2 separate regions of the Homo sapiens genome follow, and region 1 is linked to region 2. Evidence: fine-mapped expression QTL. A gene starts in region 2. The other region holds a variant in brackets. All regions are shown on one strand. Distances are from middle to middle. Region 1 has its middle 4.2 kb from the start of SLC2A7. Region 2 holds the start of SLC2A5 (solute carrier family 2 member 5).

Region 1 (2,911 bases), 39 kb after region 2:
GATCTCTGTGGCACTGCCAGGGCTGCATGCTCCAGAGCCAGCAGGAGCTAGGGACAAGCAGGAGCCCCGCCCCTTCTGAGTTCATGGGGGTGGGAGCTCCCCAGGTGCAGCTGCAGCCTCCACCTGCGCCCCCCACCAGATGCAGGCCCTAGGCGTCTCTGCAGTCTGCACCTTCAGGGGCCCGGCAAGGCCTTCCCACCCCTCCCCTCTGTCCCCACAGACTTGGGGATGTCTCCTCCCACTGCCTGGCTTCTCTCCACTCCTGGCACCCACTCCAGTCTCGGAGAGGGGTTGGGGCTGAGCCTGGGCACTGTCACAGCTCAGCTGGGTGTGCATACACCCTGGGAAGTGCTGACATGCCAGCCCCCTGCTGCCTTGGCCCCCTCTGGAATTTGGGCACAGATGAGTGTAAGAGGGGAAGCTTAAGGGGGGCTGAGGGTGGCTCGGTGCTGGCCTACAGGTGCCCCTTACTGCAAGCAACACGGGTGCCACAGACAGCTGTGGGAGGCAGACAGGTTCCTGAGCAGAAGTGGACAGGTCCCTGTAAGACCCCACCTTCAGGCCAGGGAGGGCCTAAAGGCTGGCGGCTGGGCTGCCAGTCCTCCAGACTGGACTGGGGACTTGTGATGCCTTTTCTGGGCCCACCTATGGCCCCCCATGGACCAATAGGCATGTACTTCCTCCCCTTTGAGGTCCATAAAAGCCCCAGACTCAGCCAGAACAGGGCAGAGGATGGAAAGACGACAGGATGACCAGCTGCAGAGAGGAGCTACCCTCTCCAGGGCCTCCTCTCTACTGAGAGCTGAACACTCGATGGGACAATCTGCCTACAGAGAGGAGCTACCTACTGTGGGCCTCCTCTGAGCTGTTCTAACACTCAATAAAGCTCCTCTTCATCTTGTTCACCCTCCACTTGTCTGCATACCTCATTCTTCCTGGATGCGGGACAAGAACTCAGGCAAAGGCTGCCACCGGCCACAGAGGTTTCTGGCCAGAAAATCAACACTTCAAAGATCAGATAACAATGCTAAGTCCCTGTGATGGGATCAAGGTCAGGACACTTGGCAGGTGAGAGATGGAGCTGAAGAGGGTTCAGCTGAAGAAGGTTCAGACCCGTTTGCTCACCACTGTGTCCACCATGCCTGGAACAGTGACTGGCACAGAGTAGGAATTCATTCAGTGCTTTTTGAATGAATGAGTCTTGGTAAAGAGGATTTTAAATGGTTGACAGCAGAGTAAGAAAGAGTGGATCTGGGGAGGAGTTGTCAGCCCCCAGGCGACATGTTCATAAGCCAAATTAGGCAGTTGGAAGGTAGGTTTGACCAGCGTTTTTCACACTTCCAGATGTCACATACCAAAATTTGGTAGACTAACATCGGGCTGCCTCTTTCCATTTTGCAAATAAAAACATTTTTTAAAAACTGGCCAGGTGCAGTGGCTCATGTCTGTAATCCCAGCAGGATTGCTTGAGCCCAGGAATTTGAGACCAGCCTGAGCAGCAAAGTGAGACTGTGTCTCTAATTTGCATATATATATATATA[TAA/A]TTTTTAAAAAATGAACTCCCATCACCAAATTGAGGAAACAATGTTTTAAATAAAGGGCATTTTACTATCTAGACAGGATGTAATCACAGAATAAATTTCAGTCTTTTAAATTGAATAGATTTTTCTTTGTGAAAATCTCACTCCATTGCCCTGTGTCCTGGTATTGCTTAGTGGCTTAACCACCAGGACAGAAACATCAGGAACAAGGGCAGGGCAGTGCATGGTGCACTGGCCATTTCCATTACAGAAGGGCGCTCAGAAAGGAGAGCTGAAGTTCCAATCTGGAATGTTAGTTAGACTGAGTCTTGCCCCCTTCAATCTGCTTTCTCCAGGATTATTTTTTAGTTCCTGCAGGAAGAATGAGAAAGCAGGTAGTTGGCATCCTGACACTCTCATCTGAACATTTCCTTTCCCCTCCTACTACTCTGCAGTGAATTGAGTGCTTTTTTTCTCCCTTTTTCATGTGTTTGCTTTTTTTTTTTTTTAAGACAGGGTCTCACTCCGTCACCCAGGCTAGAGTGCAACGGCACTATCTCAGCAATCTGCAAACTCCACCACTCAGGCTCAAGTGATCCTCCCCCTTCAGCTTCCCTAGTAGCTGGGACTACAGACACATGCCACCATACCCAGCTAATTTTTGTATTTTTTGTAGAGGCAGGGTTTCACCATGTTGCACAGGCTGGTCTTGAGCTCCTGAACTTAAGTGATCCACCAGTCTCGGCCTCCCAAAGTGTTAGGATTACCAGCATGAGCCACCACACCTGGCCCTAACAGTGCTGTTTGAGGGGCTGCTCTTGTCATCCTACATTCTGCACAGCACTGGGACATGCAAGTGATACATACATGGCATCTTCTGTCTTTAGGAATTTACAGTGTAGCCAGGAAGATAAACACCATGCATGCCTTTTCCCTCCTTGCACCCTTGAACTCCAAGTGGGTCACCAGAGCCATCTGTGAAAATTTGGCTAGGGTCCCTGCTCTTACCAGATGTCTTAGTTCATTTTGTGTTGCTATAACAGAATACCACAGAGTAGGCAATTTATAAGCAACAGAAGTGTGTTTGGCTCATGATTCTGGAGGCTGAAGTCCAAGATTGAGGAGCTGCATCTGGTGAGGACCTTCCTGCTGTGTCGTAACATGGCAGATTCCTTTATTTTAGCCCAGTGAGACCCATGTCAGACTTATGACACGTAGACCCCTAAGATGATAAATATGTGTTGTTTTAAGCCACTACGTTTTTGGTAATTTGTTACAAAAGCCATAGAAAACTAATATAGAGATTTTGGTATTGGGAAATGGAGTGCTGCTGTTAATACCTAAATAGCTAAAAGTATGTAAATGGCTTTAGCATTGCACAATGAGAAGAG
Region 2 (2,911 bases):
GACCCCCCCGACCCCCCAACACACACACACACACAGACGGCCACGCTGCTAGGCTTCTCACAGTCTCCCACCCTGAGCAACCCTGGGGATTTGCTGCTAATGCAAGGAACAGTGCCTAACACAGGCTCCCAGTCTCTGCTTGTTTAAAGATGCATGAGATTCAGAATCAATCACTAAAGTAACTGGATTTACGCCACAGCAAATAGAACTGGGAGTATGTTCTGTAAAGATGAAAACCTGTGGGACTTGTGAGACTTTGGATTTTGGCCACTTGCGCTGGTGTGCCCTGTGGCAGCTGAATGAGTGCCAAACATGGGGGGCTGACAGTGGCCTGGCCTTGAGATGGCCGGACCCGGACCAGCAGGTGTGACTCATTTTCCCTGCCCTGCCTGGAAAGGGGTTCGAGGTATTTACCACCTTCCCAGTAGTGATGAATACACAGAAAGTAACATCCCTAGGTCATTCTGAGCTCCTTAAAATGGAAAATAAGAGGCCGGACACGATGGCTCACGCCTGTAATCCCAGCACTTTGGGAGGCCAAGGAGGGTGGATCACTTGAGGTCAGGAGTTCGAGACCAGCCTGGCCAACATGGCAAAACCCCGTGTCTACTAAAAATATAAAAATTAGCCGAGCGTGGTAGTGCACGCCTGTAATCCCAGCTACTCAGGAGGTGGAAGCAGGAGAATCGCTTGAACTCGGGAGGCGGAGGTTGTAGTGAGCTGAGATCATGCCACTGCACTCCAGCCTGGGACAAGAGCGAAACTCCGTCTCAAAAAAAAAAAAAAAAAAAAAAAAAAACAGAAAATGAGAAACTTTCCCCAAACAGTATTACACGGTGACTTGGGCAAAACTGACTCTCCACCAAGAGACACTTGACTGTAGTTTTCCTGGCAGGGAGAGCATCTTTGAGGTCTCTAGTGGCCCAATCTGTTGCCCTCAGATTACCTGGTGTCATGTAGGGTGGAGGACAGCTGTTGTTTGCCATGCGTTCCTGACAGAAATAACCCTTCCAGTCATTCACCATGAGCCTGACTGGTAGAGACTTTAGCAATGGGGAAATACCGTAGACTGTTCCATCAGGACAATGCTGGGCCTGCAGTCCCCAGGGGGCACCCACTTACTTAGCCAAACCCCAGACGTTTCATTTAAAAGCAGAAGTGAAAGGAAGACCAGGTTCCTGAAAGGGTTATTCTGACTTAATCTGGCTATAAAAATGCTATTGGCTGTTATTTGGCATGGCCAAAGTGCACCCAGAATGTCTTCTCTCTCCATTCAGTGCACGCGTTACTTTGGCTAAAAGGAGGTGAGCGGCACTCTGCCCTTCCAGAGCAAGCATGGAGCAACAGGATCAGAGCATGAAGGAAGGGGTGAGTGTGTTGCTCAGGGAAAGGGGCCAAGAGCAGGCTTGGCTGCCAGGGCCTGTGCAGCCTTCCTGGAGAGTCGCTGGGGGGCTCCTGGTGTTGCAGAGGGAACTCTGTGTTGGGAGGGATTATGGTGGGGAGAGGGGGAAAGTCTTGTCCAGCAGGTGGTCTTTTATAGGGAGGAGAGAGGTTTAGAGACAAGTGCTCTGTGGAAATCATTCTACTGGAACAGCCTTTAACAGCAGGATCTGTAACTGAATGGAAGAGACCCAAAGGATTCATTTGTCCCAACTTGAACCAAACATGTTAGCTGCAAAATCCTTCTATGGTTGGTGAGATGTTTCGCTCTGCTTTCGTTTTGCTTTTGGCTTCAGGGCAGTTAATTTTTTCAGCAAGTAACATAGCTGAGCTGCATGAAAGCAAGATAAACTCAGAAAAGGCGTTGCTTGATTTGAATTTAGTTCAGATCTGTCACGTAGGTTTCCTGCCTTTTAGATCCTGAGGCTCCCTTGTTTTAGAGAGGAAAGATTTTCATGGACTCCTGCAACGTAATTGCAGTTTACTTTCTAGATTCCCTTGATTGAGGAAAATGCATAATGTCAGAAAAGTAACACTGACTTATTAACACTTTATAAGAATTTGCATTTATTCATCACAATAGCATCTGCTTATATTTGGAGTGGAGGAAGGATAGTGCACATTTTTGCAAAACAGCATTTGTTCAGGCATGGATGTGAGACCCTCACCATAGGCAGACTGGAAACATGCTCTGTAGCACATAGATTAAGAGTGGGTCTTGGGAGGCTGAGGTGGGTGGATCACCTGAGGTCAGCAGTTCGAGACCAGCCTGGCCAACATGGTGAAACCCCATCTCTACTAAAAATACAAAAATTAGCCAGGCGTGGTGGCAGGTGCCTGTAATCCCAGCTACTCAGGAGGCTGAGGCAGGAGAATCACTTGAACCTGGGAAACAGAGGCTGCAATGAGCTGAGATCACGCCATTGCACTCCAGCCTGGTCAACAAGAGCGAAACTTCATCTCAAAAAAAAAAAAAAAAAAAGAGTGGGCCTGGGAAGTAGAAGCCCCCAGGATTCATTCCTGCTCCATCCTATTCTAGCTGTGGGACTTGGGTAAGTTCTTTAACTCTTCAGTGCCTCAGTTTTCTCATTTGTAAAATGGGAGTAATAACCATACCGCCTCATAGGGTGCTGGAGCAATTAAATGAGATAATGCATGTAAAGTACCTGGCACAGAGTGAGTTCCCCGTAAATGTTACTACTTTTCTTTCTCTCTCTCTCGCTTTTTTTTTTTTTTTTTTTTGACACAGAGTCTTGCTCTGTCACCCAGGCTGAAGTACAGTGGTGCGATCAAGGTTCACTGCAACCTCCACCTTCTGGGCTCAAGCGATCCTCCCACCTCAGCCTCCCAAGTAGCTGGGATTACAGGCATGCACCACCACACCCGGCTAATTTTTGTATTTTTAGTAGAGATGGGGTTTCACCATGTTGGCCAGGCTGGTCTAGAACTCCTGACCTCAGGTGATCCGCCC

Evidence for each region. PIP is the estimated chance that this variant, and not a neighbour inherited with it, causes the effect.
Region 1: its variant is fine-mapped to the expression of SLC2A5 in whole blood (INTERVAL, PIP 0.94).

What each region holds. Positions count from the first base shown.
Region 1 is chr1:9,029,170-9,032,080 of GRCh38, reverse strand. No RefSeq gene overlaps it. Among named protein-coding and RNA genes, the nearest start is that of SLC2A7, 4.2 kb to the right of the region's middle. The variant TAA/A (reference allele first, on the strand shown) is at 1,542.
Region 2 is chr1:9,067,961-9,070,871 of GRCh38, reverse strand. SLC2A5 (solute carrier family 2 member 5) reads left to right here and starts at 1,237. Exons shown (of 12, transcript NM_003039.3): 1 at 1,237-1,368. The coding sequence starts at 1,336.